4 linked regions of the Homo sapiens genome follow. The protein of the gene in region 3 purifies or fractionates together with the protein of the main gene of each other region. This does not show direct contact. Each region holds a gene or a part of one and is shown on either strand. Other genes may lie near its edges.

The links.
Region 1: the proteins of TRIM40 (region 3) and ANKRD35 purify together in Homo sapiens (affinity purification with mass spectrometry, with the first as the bait; one large-scale study listed by BioGRID). This does not show direct contact.
Region 2: the proteins of TRIM40 (region 3) and NBAS purify together in Homo sapiens (affinity purification with mass spectrometry, with the first as the bait; one large-scale study listed by BioGRID). This does not show direct contact.
Region 4: the proteins of TRIM40 (region 3) and MIDEAS purify together in Homo sapiens (affinity purification with mass spectrometry, with the first as the bait; one large-scale study listed by BioGRID). This does not show direct contact.

The regions. Positions count from the first base shown.
Region 1 is NC_000001.11:145,875,686-145,879,371, forward strand, and holds part of ANKRD35 (ankyrin repeat domain-containing protein 35), read right to left. Parts: coding exon 3,573-3,686; intron 2,795-3,572; coding exon 2,706-2,794; intron 2,348-2,705; coding exon 2,283-2,347; intron 1,189-2,282; coding exon 1,131-1,188; intron 955-1,130; coding exon 884-954; intron 562-883; coding exon 455-561; intron 1-454.
Region 2 is NC_000002.12:15,166,235-15,169,880, forward strand, and holds the end of NBAS (NBAS subunit of NRZ tethering complex), read right to left. Parts: intron 1,090-3,646; coding exon 814-1,089; 3' UTR 682-813; downstream 1-681. UniProt on the Homo sapiens protein: Involved in Golgi-to-endoplasmic reticulum (ER) retrograde transport; the function is proposed to depend on its association in the NRZ complex which is believed to play a role in SNARE assembly at the ER. Required for normal embryonic development.
Region 3 is NC_000006.12:30,142,463-30,146,148, reverse strand, and holds part of TRIM40 (E3 ubiquitin ligase TRIM40), read right to left. Parts: intron 156-3,686; coding exon 60-155; intron 1-59. UniProt on the Homo sapiens protein: E3 ubiquitin-protein ligase that plays a role in the limitation of the innate immune response. Mediates inhibition of the RLR signaling pathway by ubiquitinating RIGI and IFIH1 receptors, leading to their proteasomal degradation.
Region 4 is NC_000014.9:73,757,323-73,761,727, forward strand, and holds the start of MIDEAS (mitotic deacetylase-associated SANT domain protein), read right to left. Parts: upstream 2,982-4,405; 5' UTR 2,441-2,981; intron 1,498-2,440; exon of another isoform or gene 1,425-1,497; intron 1-1,424.

The DNA.
Region 1 (3,686 bases), on a different chromosome or scaffold from region 3:
CTACAGGCACCCACCACCATGCCTGACCAATTTTTTGTATTTTTAGTAGAGATGGGGTTTCACCATTTTAGCTAGGATGGTCTCAATCTCTTGACCTCGTGATCCACCCGCCTTGGCCTCCCAAAGTGCTGGGATCACAGGGATTCTACATACATTTTTTATTGGAAAAAAGGATCCTCTTGCATAAAAGATAATTTGACAACCAGTAAATTCAGCCAACGGGTCCAGAAGTGTCGATTCTACTTCTGGGGTCATCTATCTATGAAGATGGTGGTGGCAGCAGGCAGAGCTCTTCAGAACCTCCACTGGGAAGGAATGAGGTTCCCAAGAACACAAAGACCAACCTGACTTCTTCCCCAACACACACAAACACACACACACACACGTTGCCCACTGGCTTCTTTCTAAATTGGTCAGGCATGGGAATTGGGGTGCATAGACGAGGGGGGCTCACTTGTCATTCTTGTCTGTAACATTAACTCGGGCGCCTCGCTGCAGCAGCTGTGAGCAGATAGCTGCGTGCCCACCCAGCGATGCGATCATCAGGGGTGTACGTCCATCCTGCACAGATTGTAGGAAGAGGTTCATGAGCAGCCAGGGACTGCAGAGGCTTGACAATCCTACCGGCTCCCCTCCCCTCACACCTGTCCAAAAAAAATAAAAGCCCAGATCTTGGGTCTGAACACTCCCTTTTGGAGGGTTAGAAGCTCTCCAGAAGATAAGGCTTAACCTCTCTGTGAGGAAGAAGAGGAGAAGCAGGAGGAGAAGGAAGAGAAGGGTGGTGCTAACACAGCCCTAGGTCGTGGAAGTTGGCCAGTCAAGCTGAGAGACAGCAGCAGCCCTTCTGTGTAGGACACTGCCCACTTGCCCATCTGACACTCACATTATCCAACACGTCCAGGAAGGCTTCGTGGTCACACAGCAGGAGCACACTTGAGGCACAGCCAGAGGAGGCTGGGGAGAAGATGTTTGGGTTAAGGGGAAGCATGAAGAAAGCCTACTCAGACTATGACCCAACATCCCCTCCGACCATTTCATTGGTTGGCCCTGGCTGCCCTTCCCTCCTCACGCCTCCCCTTTCCCACCCTGTAGTCTCTGCAGCCCTGTTCCCATGAGTCCCCTGCACACACCTGCCCAGTGCAATGGACTACGGTTTTCTGCATCCACAGCATCTTCATTAGCACCATGCTGCAAATGGCCACAAAGGGAAGCAGCATGGAGCTTGGTGTTAACATCCTCATCCCATACCCCCATTGGGTCACCAATTTCCATGGTAATATGAGGAGGGGCAGGAGGTCCACTTTGGAGAAGGCTATCTACTAGGCAAGCCCAGTTCATCCATTGCTGATGATAGGCAGCCTTGAATATCAGCCCTGGTTTCTAAACCAAGGGGCTAAGAAAAATCAGATGGTAATAAACGTGTTAGGGAAAATGACACCCAATGTCCCCGTGGCTGGTACTTTAGAAACATAATTGTGAAATTTGGAAAGGATTAGGAAGAACGAAAGTAGAACATCCATTTGCCTGATGGCCGGTTAAGATAACTGATTTTTTTTTTTTTTTTTGAGACAGAGTCTCTCTCTGTTGCCCAGACTGGAGTGCAGTGGTGCGATCTTGGATCACTGCAACCTCCGCCTCCTGGGTTGAAGCGATTCTCCTGCCTCAGCCTCCCGAGTAACTGGGACTACAGGCACGTGCCACCACACCCAGCTAATCTTTTGTATTTTTATTAGAGATGGGGTTTCACTGTGTTAGCCAGGATGGTCTCGATCTCCTGATCTTGTGATCTGCCCACCTCCATCTCCCAAAGTCTGGGATTACAGGCATGAGCCACCGCACCCGGCCAGTAACTGCCTTTTGTGCTTTTGGAGACTCATTTATAAATGATCCACATGTCATTTTACATGTATATTTCTCTTTATACTACTAGACTATAAACTCTTCAGAAACAGACAGTAGGGCTTTGGTTTAATTTGAACATCTCTGTCCTCCTTCCTCTTGCCCCTCATCATAGCAGGAAGTCTCTGCAGTGGCTCTGCTAATGACAAAATCGATAGTGCCTGGCAACTCTGCTTTATAACCTGCCCTCAAAGGCACTATCAAACATGGTGCCTGCACATAGTAGTTAAATAAATGTTGGCAAACAAATGATTATCAGCCCTCCTATTGGGGATGAGGCGAGTACATTTGGCCAACTATTCCTTTTAAGTATGAAATGAAGTTAGAAAACTCTGGGACCACTTCTTCCCTTCATAAGAGTGGTATCAAGGGACTGCTCTTACCTGAAGCAGAACCTTAACACACTGTGGCTGGCAGGAGATGGTGGCCAAGTGTAGGGCAGTGCTTCCTGGAACAGAAAGAAGGGGAGAAGGAGGGTAGGTGGCCCCATGCATGCTGATGACTCACAGGGAGGGAAGGCAAGAGACGCACAGATAATCAGGAGATTAGGGAGAGAAGCTTTCAGCCACACGGGGCCAGAAATTCCTGTTCCCCAAGTGCCTGGTACCTGTGATGAAGGTGGGAGTGGGGGTGAGGTGTGCCCAGCTTACGGGGAGGGGAACTCCTGGAAGGATGCTGGCCAGAACTTACTAAGGAGAGAAGCAAGGGGCCACAGTAGGAATGTCCAGCAGGGCCCAGCACCGCCCCCGACTGCTGCTGTACCAGGGGCAAGCAAGCAGCGTGGCCCAGTGCTCCGGCTCACTCACCATCCTCATTCTTGCTGTTGATGTCAGCCCCATTTGCAAGCAGGATAGTCAGACATTCTGTCAGGCCTTTGGAGGCTGCCAGATGAAACCTGCCAGAATCAAGGCCGAGAGGCCAAAGGATAAAGGGACCAGGGATGAGGAATGGGAGAATCTTGATAAGCCCTTCTTGCTATGCTCCCTACCCCAAAGCCAATCCTAAAAGCAGGAAAAGAAGCTCCCCTAGCTTGAATTTCTGAGAAAGAGAAGTCTATATGGCCTCCAATCACAAAGGATGCTAAAAGCAAGGAAGAAATAAGAGCTACAGGTCTCAAGGAATCTCAGACTATTGCAGGGGTGTCTAGGGAACACATAATTACCTGCCTCTCTGAGCACAGAACCTTAGCGGAAGTGGAAGTGTCACAGAAAGAGTCAGCCAGAGCAGAGTGAAGGCTGGACATTCGAAGGCTTTGGGTAGAGACAAGGGATAACATTTCCTTTGACTTAATCACTACTCCCTCTAGCCATGTGACTCCCATGCTACCACTTCATTTCAAATTTCCCATGCATACACACCCTCCTACTTGTGCAATGAAGAAACACTCTACTTAGTGTATATATTCATTTTCTGTTTGTTTAATGGGCTTTATGTACTTTACAAGTCAGTGGTGTCAATCTGGGTTGTGCAATGGATGGAGCTCAGGAACAATATTTTCTTTCCTCACTTTGTGTAGAACTTATATGTAGCAAAAAACTATTGATATACTTGCTAATTAAGACAATGAAAAGAGCTCTGAAGTTGTAGGCATTCCCTGGTCCTATGTTATATTGGATTTGGGGGCTTCAAAAGGGAGCCACATGTAAGGGGCAGGGGCAGGAGGACTGACTTACGGGGACTGGCCATTCGAGTCAAGCTTGGTGGGTCGGGCAGATTTCCTGGAGGCCAGGGCAGCCACGCGTCCCACATCCCCCCTGTGCACTGCCTCCAGCAGCTTCTGATCATGG
Region 2 (3,646 bases), on a different chromosome or scaffold from region 3:
GCGAACCCTAAGATGCCAATCCCACCTGTGATAAGTGTGCATGCTGGCTCTGTTCCCCCACCCACCTGCCTATGTACGTTTATGGACATGAAATGTGTCAACCTGAACATGTCGATGCTGATAAATTTTGAAGCCCTCTAATCAGACAGCAATCATGTATTGGTCCTGATCATCTGGCTATGCCCTGAAGGTCATAATTCATATACTGTGACACTAGTGAGTGGGACAGAGAGTTAATATTTCTTCAGCTCCGGCTGTGTATCTGATAGAGCCTCACACACACAACCCCACATAATACTTATCAACTTTACGAGACAAATAATACCACCCTTATTTTTCTACAAAATAGACATAGGTTCAAAGAGGTGGAAGAATTTGCCCGAGGTCATTTAACTAATCTGAAACTTGAGTCCAGGTCCACCCTCCCTCCACCCATGACACCTGCCTTGACCGCCAGGCATTCTGCACACTCCCTCCCTTCCTAATGCCACCCCATCCACCAGCACATCCAACTTGCTGAACTACAGTTGTGGACACATTATAAACTGAATTCTATCCAGAAAAGGCAGGTTGAAATAAAAAAGGAGGGTGGGAAGGAAGAGTCTCTTAATCAATAAGAAAATATGTTCACCACTCAGTACAAGAAAGAAAAAAAAGGTTAAAAAAGCGGCAGCTTGCTCATCGTTTCCATACAGTTTTATTTGCAATTTGTTGGAACCATGGAGAACAATCGGCAGATACACATGTTGCTTCTGGGAACAGCATTCAACTCCAGATGCTTTTTCTGCTAAGGAGCAGGGCCACAGGTGGCCCTCACACCCAGTGCTGTGCTGCGCGGAGGGCTGTACTGAAGGTTCTGAAGGCCTGGTGAGTCCCCCTCACGGCCAGAAGGAGAGACCCGGCTTCGGCTTCATGGCCGGCCTCCCGCAGGTGTCTGCCCAGCTCCTCTGCATCCCAGCGCCCTTGCTGGAGGCTAGCCAAGAGGTGGTCAACAATACGTGGATAGAAGGGAGTGGAGACACACTTCACCAGCAGCTTGGCATCCAGGAGCAGGGAAAGAAGTTCTTGGTCACAATTGGAATCATTCACCTTCAAGAAATAAGACAGGCACAGCGTGAGGGGGTGTTTGCTTTGTTCGCCTCCCCCTTGGATCCCTCGCTCTCCACTGGGCTGCCTTCATCATCATTCATGCCCTGGCCTGGGTTTAAAAGCGTGTGTGGGTCACGAGCACCTCTGAGGTAGGTCACAGATTGGGATGACAGACGGGGCTCCTCTTAACATAAGAAGACACAAGAACCCCACTGCAATCATCACTACAGCTTCCAGATACTGGGTGCCAGAAACTATTCAACACTGTACCAGCATCTCTTCACCAAGGCCTTCTGATTCAACCCCGTGACTGGCACTTTTACCTCCCAATTGACAGAAAAGGAAACTGAGGTGTAGCAACTTTGCTTAACATTGTAACCAGTTGTAGAGCCAGATTGTAAATTTGGGTCAATCTTGACATCAAAGTCTGTGCTCTTAACAACCACATTTACTGTTTCATTTGTACTTTCACTGTGATCCACATTCTTTAATGCTGTATCTTTCTTGAATATAAATACACATGAAAAAAATTTTTTTGGAACAAGAAAACCTTTTTTGTACTCCATTGAGAGAAGAGTATGTCCCTCAAGCCCACTGATACGAGTAAGATAACCAACAGTGGGGTTTTAAACTATTTTTGCTTCAGCCTCTAGGAAGCTCAGTACCAACCTTGCCTTTTAAAAAACGGTTTCATAGGTTCTTTCAGTTTGCGTATTCTCTTTCTCCCTGGTCTTGTCTTCTAAATATATGTATTATTTTCAATATTTTTTTAAAGAATCAAGTCCACACTGATCATATTATCAAAATTCGGAGCTTCTCACTTACATTGGGGTATCATAAAACAGATTCCTGACAGGCTTTTCTTAACGTTACTGTGCCTTTTTAATAATTTGGATTGTAGGACTCTCAGAAATAATGTCAAAGCCAATTAACTAACGTTTAGACCAACTATATTATGCAACTGTACACAATGTGCTCTTCCTGCATGTTCTGTGACAAGGAAGAAAGGCTATTGAAGATGCGAAGGTCAACTGTGTCTACTTGTCTACTGACTGTGAGAATTAAAGCAAGAGAAGTACTGAGAATAAAATCCTGCCCACTATCGGATAGCGTGAATCTTTCCTACTACCCACAGGGGTCATTCAAAACCCAATGTAAACATCACCTCCAATGCCATCTTCTTGCTGACATTTTCTTTAACTCTCTTGGCCAATACTTGGGAGTATGACCAAGGATTCCTCCTTCCTCCATACTCCCAAGATGCCTGAGATCTGCCTCTTCATGCTGTATGATAAGTAATTTTATTTTATTTATTTCTTTTTTGAGATGGAGTTTTACTCTTGTTGCCCAGGCTAGAGTGCAGTGGTGCAATCTCGGCTCACTGCAACCTCCTCCTCTTGGGTTCAAGCGGTTCTCCTGCCTCATCCTCCCAAGTAACTGGGATTACAGGTGCATGGCACCACGCCTGGCTAATTTTTTGTATTTATTAGAGATGGTGTTTCACCATGTTGGTCAGGCTGGTCTCGAACTCCTGACCTCAGGTGATCCACTCACTTTGGCCTCCCAAAGGGCTGGGATTACAGGCGTGGCCACCGTGCCCGGCCTGTATGATAGTAATTTGTATGTCTGTCTCCCTTACCGACTGGGAAATTCTTGAAGGCACAGAAGTTTTATCACTTTTACATTTCAGCTCCCCATTTCATTAACATTTGTTAAATGGCTGAGTGAACCTACATTATGAAACTTTGTCACATTTTTGTAAACTGCACAAGTACACGATAAAGACCCTACCTCTCAGAGAGACTGAATAGAACTAGACTCCAGAACAGAAGACCCTCTCTGCAAACCCTCAGTGTCTTTTCTCCGGCCTCCCAATTCATGAACACTTGTACAGCCCACCTTTGACCCCACCTTTGACCCAAAACACTTAGGTTGAACTCCAGGAATTTACCTTTGTTTTTGTTTTTAGGAGCTAGATGACAGAAAAAGCCACCGGTTCAATGGACTTGCTTTTGTGCTGGAAGGGGCACGGAGCTTTGACTTCTCCTCGCTGGGGCTGCCTGTGAGTTCTGAATGCCTTCTTTCCATCCCACTTCTCTCCCTGTCTCTTCATGCCTAGCAAACAAGAGTCTCAACCCCACAGAGCTCCTGCCCTCAGCAGCACGGTGTCTACGTGCCAGAACCCTGAGAGGCCCTTGAAGTCTTCAGACATCCCTTCAAGACAGTTCTCACCTCCTCTGACAGAGGCAGGTTCAGTGAGGTCAAGTGTGATACAGTTGCTCCATGGTGGAGTGGCCTAGAAGCCCGTGTCTCGGCCTAGTTTACTTGTTTATTGTTTGTTTCCCTCCAGAACACAAGTTCCTATGGAGCAGAGATCTTGTCTCTTCTGTTCACCCCTGTATCCCCATGTCCAGAATGGGTGGTCACATGCTAGGAGCTGAGCAAGATTTGTGGAATGAATACCCAAGTGAATGAATCACTCCAAAGCTCACATTCTTTCAGTCTGTGTGGCTGCCTCCAGCCACGTGCATGCACATGCTAATGCGTGCACACACAC
Region 3 (3,686 bases):
TAAGTAAGGGCTCCTGAGAACACTCCAGGGAGTCCTTCCCAGGAACCCGAAAAACCCACCTGCAGAGCCTGCAGTTTCTTCTCCTGCTGAGCCTTGAGCCGCTGAAGTTCTGCAATGTCCTTTCTGAGCTTCCTGCTCCGGCGATTGAGTCGTTCCTAAAGAGACAGACACACCTGCTTGTCAGACTGGGAGTGAGGGGGGCACCCACTGGGAGGAGTCAATGGAACACGGTAGGGGGCCTGATCCCAGAATGCAACTAATGTAAAATTCTGCCTAAAAAGAAATGCTTTTAGAGCATCATGGTTGGAGTAAGGGACTTGAGAGTTTATTTATTGGATAATGATGGGGGGAAATAGTAATGGGTAATTTTTTTACAGTCTTAGAAGTACAGAAAAAATAATAGATAGCAACAGAACCATTTCTACTTGACTTCAGGGTGCTTTCTCTCAACATACAAAAGTTATATGACAGTCTTCTAGCACTTCTTACTATTTTACAGTAACACATGGAGCCAGTCTGGAGGGAATTGCCTTAAAGAGGAAATGGCAACCCTCTGCTACCTCTGCTGCCTGGTCCTCACTGGGATGAGTGACAAGATAGAGCCCTTTACTAGGTGCAAACTCATAGCCCAGGTAGGCAGTGCCTTCTCTCTCAATCTTAAATCAGCATCTGGATGTGTCGCTGTGTCCTTGAAGCTATGGAGTTAAAGAATGATTTGAGTTTCTAAAAAAATTTTGCTTTCAGGTTTTTGATGACCTATAAGAGAAGCAAAAATAACAACAAATGCTTTAAATGGCTGCCCATGGTTCGGGGGGCAGTTGGAGGGTGAATGATAAAATAGAAAACAAAACGAGAAGAGATTTGTGAACTAAAGATCAGGATGTGCTATTAGCTGAAAAGTGTGTGTTTCACTAAATCTTTCCCACTTCAGATTTTTTTTTTTTAATCTTTTTTGAGGAGATTTTGGAGATGTACAGGTAGAAGTCAGGGGATGGTGAAGACAACTGAAAGTTCTTTCCAGCCTGAGAATTTCCTGGTGAAATCAAGGTCAAAGGACTGTGTGTGTGAGGGGTCAGCAAGGGCATTTGGTGAACAGAAAGCTGCAGTAAGCAGAGAAGACAGTGATGTCACCACAAAGTTACTAAAAACGTGTCACGTCACTGGGTGTTTCCTGCAGGCATTTCCCAGCAGAGACGAAATAAAAAAGTCATAGGAGTGGGAAGTAATAAATGGGCATCATGGATGTCGCTCATGAGTCTCGCTGAAGAAGGTGGCAGGCTGGTGTGGAACTGTTTGTGCGAGCACAAGAGTTCATGTCCTGAAAAGCACAAACAGCCTTCACCGCTTGCATCTACTCACTTGCTGCCCTCACAGTCAAGTTGTTTGGTGTTGCTGTCTTCACCTCCTCACTGTCGTCATTCCTCAGCCAGCCGCCTTGTTTCTCATCACTCCTTTAAAGCCTCTCTCTCCAAAGTCACCTGAGATCTCCAGCCATGAAATCCGCAGGTGCCTTTCTGTACCTCCTCTCCACCCCATCCTTCCTAGACCTGTGCCTTCTGCCACTGCTTCTTTGCCTCTTCATTTTTTTCTGTAAAAAGGAGCCTTGAAGTTGGCTCCTCAACCCTTTTCTATCTCAGACTATGTCCTTAGCTTTCCTTTCTGGAGCCTTCAGATCTTAGAATTCCAAAACCAAATCTTTTTTCCTAGCAATCCATCTCATGCTTCCAAGTGAGAGCTAAGTGCTGCCTACTGCCCTGTTGGCAGCTCAAAATCAATATGGTAGAATCAAACATGCTGCCCAGTTCCCCAAGCTCTTCTGCAGTCCACTCCTCTTGACCTTCATGTTTCTGACATTGGGACTGCCATTCTGCCTGCCATTCAGCTTGAAATCTGTCACATTTCACCTTTGTTGATGTTAGTCCTCCCTTCAAAATGGCTTCTCAGCAACAAAGATAAGCCCAAACTCCTTCACCCAGCATCCAAGGTGCCCCAGGACCCAGCCCCAACTGACATTGTCCGGGATTCTCTCTCTGCTCACTGAACTCTCTTCACCAGCACACAACATTGCTCTCTGCTTCCCAAACACACCCGTGCAGCCACACCTCCTCATGGCCTTTTACTTCTCTCTGTCAGGAGTGCTTTATTTTTCTGCCTGTCAAAGTCAGGCCTATTAAGGTCCAGTTCAAAAAGCCACAGTCCTATCATCTGGCAGTTTAAAATTTAATAAAGCCAACTACAGACACTGTGTAAATGAAAAAAAGAAGGCAAAGATAACAGTAATAAAGATAAAGGCATAGAATGACTGAAGATAATACTGTCATATTGTTTACAATATTCAAAATGAGTAAGGTAAAGTCCTCTGTTTCTAAAAAGTACTTTTTCACCAATTTTTGCATAAAGGTATTTAATGGGTGCATATAATATAAATAAGACACTCATTAGAATTGAAAAGCTAAATTCTATACACTTTCACCTACCAAAATATTCCTCAGAGAAAAAAAGACAAGTTGAAATCTAGAAAATAGTCGAAGACCTGTCTTGTCTAAATGAATATTTTAAAATTCTGTCATTCAGGTTAAATCATATTAAATTTTTAAAATCTGACAAAAAAGGGCATTAAATTTGTTCTTAAACAACTTGCTAACACAATGTACAAAAGAAAAGTGGTTAACAGACAAAAAGTACCTATCCCTGACACTGAAAAAAAAAAAAAAAAAGAAAAATTAACAGCTTTCAAAATGCATGCTCCTTACAGAACTGTGTCCAAAAATATGAATTAAAAACAACATCACTCACACAATTATGATCTAGAAAATGTCAGAAAATTTTTAAAAATGTATGGTAAATACATGAGCTCAGCAAAGAATCTCATTTGAATCTACAAGTAAAAATTGTCAAAAAAAATAGTGTTGTAAAATACATAGCTACCCTCAATAGAGTCAGGGCACATGAGGTTTAAGTAAAGACAATTTAATATCTGATTCAGATACATAGTGGAAAGCCGTTAGTGATGTATCTTGGTACTGGTTGAGAAGACTAACTAAACCCCCAAAAGTCATGATTCTTAGTAATCAACAAATTTAATGCAATAACCATTAAAATCTTATGGAATGATCTATGAAATTTAGAAACATTGTAAAAAAGCACTCATCTTAAAAGACAGCAAAAATATCAGGTAATAAAATTATTAAATGGCAAAAATGCTGCTAGATTTAAAAATAAACCATAAAGTAACATGTTGTCAAAACTATATAACAGAAAGAATAATCAATGGACTAGAGTAAAAAAAAAACAGCCCATCATGAGAACTTAATTGATGTCAAGCGAGAAACAACACGTAAATGTGGAAAGGACTCACTGTTATATAAATATTTTGGGAACAACTGGATACCAGAATAAAGGAAAATTAACGTGGAGTCATCCTTCACACAACATACTATATGAAATTCCAAGTAAGCCAGGAATTAATAAACCTTTAAAAATAAAACAGAGCAGCACACTCATATTAAACAAATTTCTGTGTATTTAAGACATGGAGATTATATTATAAAAAAGAATAGAGCCAATTTAAATGCAAATTTCTAAAAAGTTGCCCAAAAATATAATTAAGAAGAAATAACAGAATAAAAAAATGTAGGTTAAACAAACACAACTAATGGAGCTCATTATCCAAAAGATAAACTATT
Region 4 (4,405 bases), on a different chromosome or scaffold from region 3:
CATTGTGGGACCCATTCAAGCAGAGGCTACCAAATACTGAAATGTGCTTTAAGCATTTTACGTATACTAACTCACAGAATCCTCACAGCAACTCTATGAAGGAGATACTGTATAGGAACTCTAACTCAGAGTCTTTGTTTTTGACCACCACACTGCAGTATGTACACAAATAACTACATAAGGTGGAAATGAGTGTTCAGAAGATGGCTACAGCCTTCAGAAGTGGCATTTGAAACAGGATTAGAAGGATAAGCTGGAAACCCCCAGCCACTTTGTGGCTGTCCCCACCCCAGCATGAGCAAAGTTTTCTTCTGGGAGACCCAAATGCAAGAGAGGGGCTCTCAACCTGAAGATTCCTGGACTGGGCCCATTCCCCTTCCCCTCTTCTGTCAGAGGTCTTGGCACCCCTGGGCAGCCTTTCTCTGGGGACTCTAGACACAGGAGGCCCTCAGCTGAATCCACAACTGCATGTTGTCTTTTCTTGTGTTCCACTTATTGAAAGCAGCAGCACACAGGGTCAAACACTGGGGCTATTTTAAAATCCCACATGTAAAAATTAAATTCTCATCCCCATGGGCACTCCAGGGCGCTCTTTCCTGGGGCGGGGTGAGGAGCTGACAGAGTCACGGGAGTGGGGGTTCTGCTGGCACTTGGAGAGGCCACACTGGCAGTGGCTAGGCTGTTCCAGAGCAAGCTGGCAAGCTGTATGACCTGGGGGCATCCTCCAGGTTCTTCACCCCCTTGTCCCCCCGGGAGCTACACGGACCAGAGTAACCAGCCAGAGGCCAATCCAATTAGAGTGGAGACTGGACCAGGGCCATGCAACGAGATGGTTTATCACAGTAATTGAATGTTTACGCTCCTATTATTCACTGTCCAGAGCAGTTGGAAAAGGAAGACCTACGAATTCTCAACCCGGGAAGGCTTCTCCTTTTCCCTGGGTTCTGAAGCCACTTAACACCCAAGGAAAGGGTGCATTTCTCTGATCCAAAAGGGGCGTGTGCCACACCTTTGGTGGGAGGCTCTAGAGCAAGACAGGTGGTTTCTCCCCTCAGCTGAGGCCCCCTAGGGAGGACTGGCTTCTCGGTCCACCTTCACTAGGCCTTCAGTCTCAACCCTGAAGCTACAGGAACAAGAAGATCCCAGATCACCTGGCCAGGCTCCCCCTGCTGGAGCAAGCCAGACATCCCCTCCCTCCCCCAGCCGCAGCTGCCAACAGGGATCCCCTGCATACGCGGGCCACCGGGGCCTCCGTGGCCAGCCTCTCTTCCCCCATCCCACCGCCCCCCGCGCGAGGCTCCACAGGCTGGCACACAGGTCCCACGTGGGATGGTGGAAACAGGAAGCAGCCACCGTAGTTGTGACCAACAAAGTTTTAAATGGGGCATATAACTTCCCCTTTCATCTTCTCACCAGCTCTCGCTGGAGGCTGGGCTGGGACGGACACCCGGCCTCCACTTTCTGTGGCAGGTACCTCCTCCATGTCGGCCCGCCTTGGGGCTGAAGCCTGAAGGCCCCAGGGCACACGAAGTTCCCCTTCCTCCCCTAGACCTTTACCCAGAGGCCTTGGGGGCAACCTGACACACATGGTCCTGCATGTGCGACTTGGGAGGCGACGTGACCAGCTCCACCAAGCCGGCCATATGCAGGGCCCGGCCGAATCCCGGGTTTCGGCGCTGCCGCCAGGCACCAGGGAACACAGCTCCCCGCGAGGCACCGCGCGGGCTGGGAGGGCTGCGGCGGCGCGGGCGTGCGGGGGCGCGCGGGAGGATGACAGGTCTGAGGTGCGCCCGCCCGCGCGAAGCGCTCCAGCCTAGGCCTCTGCTGACTGCATTTGCCCCAGTTCCCCAACGCCCCTGCACCTCTGTCCCCCAAACTCCTGGCGTGGACGCCGCGTCCAGGCCCACTTTCCCGTGCACGCTGGCAGGGGAAGGGGCTCCCGCGCCAAGTTCCCTCAGCTGGCTAGCCCCTCGCCGCGCCTTCCGGGCCTGGGCTCCGTCACGTCAGCCGGTCCCCACGGACACCACGTTTCTCTCCAGCGGAGGAGGAGCAGCCGGATTCCCGAGCCGCCGCGGGCCGCCGGGTGGGGAGGGCTTTCCTGGCGGGGCCGCGCCCGGGTGGGCGGGGGCCGCGCGCAAGCTGCGTAGCTGCACAAACACCGCGGGGCTGCGCTGCACACGCAGCTGCGGGCCGAGGGCGCGGACCGCGGGGGAGGGGGCGGCGGGCTGCAGGCGGCCCCCGCACGGCCACACGCGCCCGCTCCACCGCCGCCCAGGCCGCAGAAGTTCGAGCGCAGCGGCCCCCGCGGCCCCCTCTCCGGGCCGCGCCTGCAGAGCTGCAACCCGCCGTGCGAGCAGCCACAGCTCGCGCGCCGCCTGGGGTCCCCTCGCCGGCCCCGCCGCGTGCAGGCCTCGGCCGCCGGCCAGGCAGCCCCACTTACCCAGCTCTTGCCCGGGCTCCGGGCTCCGGGCTCGGCTGTCCCCCTTCCGCCGCGGGTCGCCGCCTTCGGTCGCCTCCGGGACTCCAGCCGCCTGCACGCACTCCCGATTTTAAAAACAAACAGGCGCCGTCGCCTCCCCGCGGCGCTCGCGGGGCTTCCGCCAGCCCGCGCCTCCCGAGGCTGAGAAGTTTGCTGGCAGGGCCCGGGCGGGACGCGCGGGCTGTCACCCCCCGCTTGCGATGCAGGAGCCTCGGCGCGCCCCGCACCCGTGCCGTCCGCCTCGCGAGCGCTCTGCCTCCCTCCGTGTCACCCCCAGTCCTGCGATGCAGTGTCAGGATTGCACGGCTCTGACTCATCGGTTGAGCTCACAGCTTGAAAAAAAAAAAAAGAGAGAGGGCGAGAGGCAACAGCGGAGGAGGAGGACTCTGGCGTGCTACAAAGGATTGCACAACTCGAGGCTGGGAGCGCGGAGCGCCCAGCGGCCGGCCGGCGCGCGCGGCACCGCGGCGAGCAGGAACCAGCTCTACCACTTCATCAGCACAACTGTCTCGGGGCGGCCTCAGCCAGCAGGCCCGGCGCCGCCCACTTCCTGCGACCAAATAAGGCCGGGGAAGGCGTCCTTAAACCTCAGGCGGCGGCCGGGGCTGGGGATTTCCAGCAGACCTCACCTCCACTCACGAGTCGGTCGCCGTCCCCATCCCCCGCCCAGGCTGGCGCCCCCGATGGCTTTGCTGGCGGGCCACGCTGCTAGTTCCTTTCACACCAAGGTCAGGAGGAGACGGTGACGAAATGTTTGGAAACCCATTGAGCCTGCCAGGAAAGTGTGTGTGTGATGCTGGGGAAGGCACAAGTCGCTTTCTTCCACAAAGAAACTCTCTCTGGTTTTGGATACGGTAAATCATGCACAATCCTCTCCATGGCATTTTATTAACAGACTCTCCGAGTTTCACTTTCTGGCTCAAAAGCGTCCTGGTGCGTGTAAAGGTTATTGAGAAACTGGCCTCAGTCCCTAGAAAGGACCCACCATCTCCATCGCTTAGGTGAGGAAAATCTCCTGGATTTAAATCTAGCAACTCAGGCCAGAGTTGAGCGGCTTTTCACTCCATACTCACATTTTCCCCTGTCTTCCCTAAATATCCCCCTGATCAATTCTCAGGTCCAGGCCTTGATGCCTCCTTGCCTGACTGGTGGGAAGATGGAAAACATTTTTGCAGCTCAAGAGGTTGGTTCTGGCCCCCACATTCAATGGGGCTCTAGGGCCAGGGGAAAGTTCAGGGGAGTGTGTCCTATTCTTCCTTCCAAGTTTTTTGGTGGTGGTGCAGTGGTGGTGGTGGCGGCGGCGGTGGTGGCGGTGGCTGTTTTTCAAGGAGATGGGTCACAAGGAGATTTTCCTTTGAAAGAAAAACCACCGAAGAATACCATGTGTCCTGGCAGCCACTTTTCAAAACACTGTGGCCAGACCTGAGAACCAGGTGCATCCCTCACTTTCTCAGGGAGAAGAGGAGGGAGGGGCAGCAGAATATGATTCTCACACACTCACTGGGCCTACAGGGCCAGGGTGGGGTGTGGAGGACACAGGCAAAACTTGGATCTTCTGCCCAGAAATCCTGCCAAACCTGCACTTGCTTCTAAGGGGGCATGGCTTTCCTGTCCTCTTCCACCTCTTTGCTGGCTGGAGCACCTGCGTACATGTACACCTGGAAGTCACACCTCCCCAAGAGGAGAAGGGCTTATTTGCACCATGTTATGATAGATATGTCAAAATAAGGAACACTTAAAACAATCTTATCTACAAAATACAGGTAATTATGCCACAGGACTGGACCAGAGGACCTCTTGAGATCCCTTCCAGTTCAAGATCCATGATTCTGTGATTACAGTAAGTGAATAGAGGAGCTAGGGAAACCACCTTCTACAAAAAAAAGCCCGGGCTCCCCGATTTAGCATCTGTGATGACAGTATTGT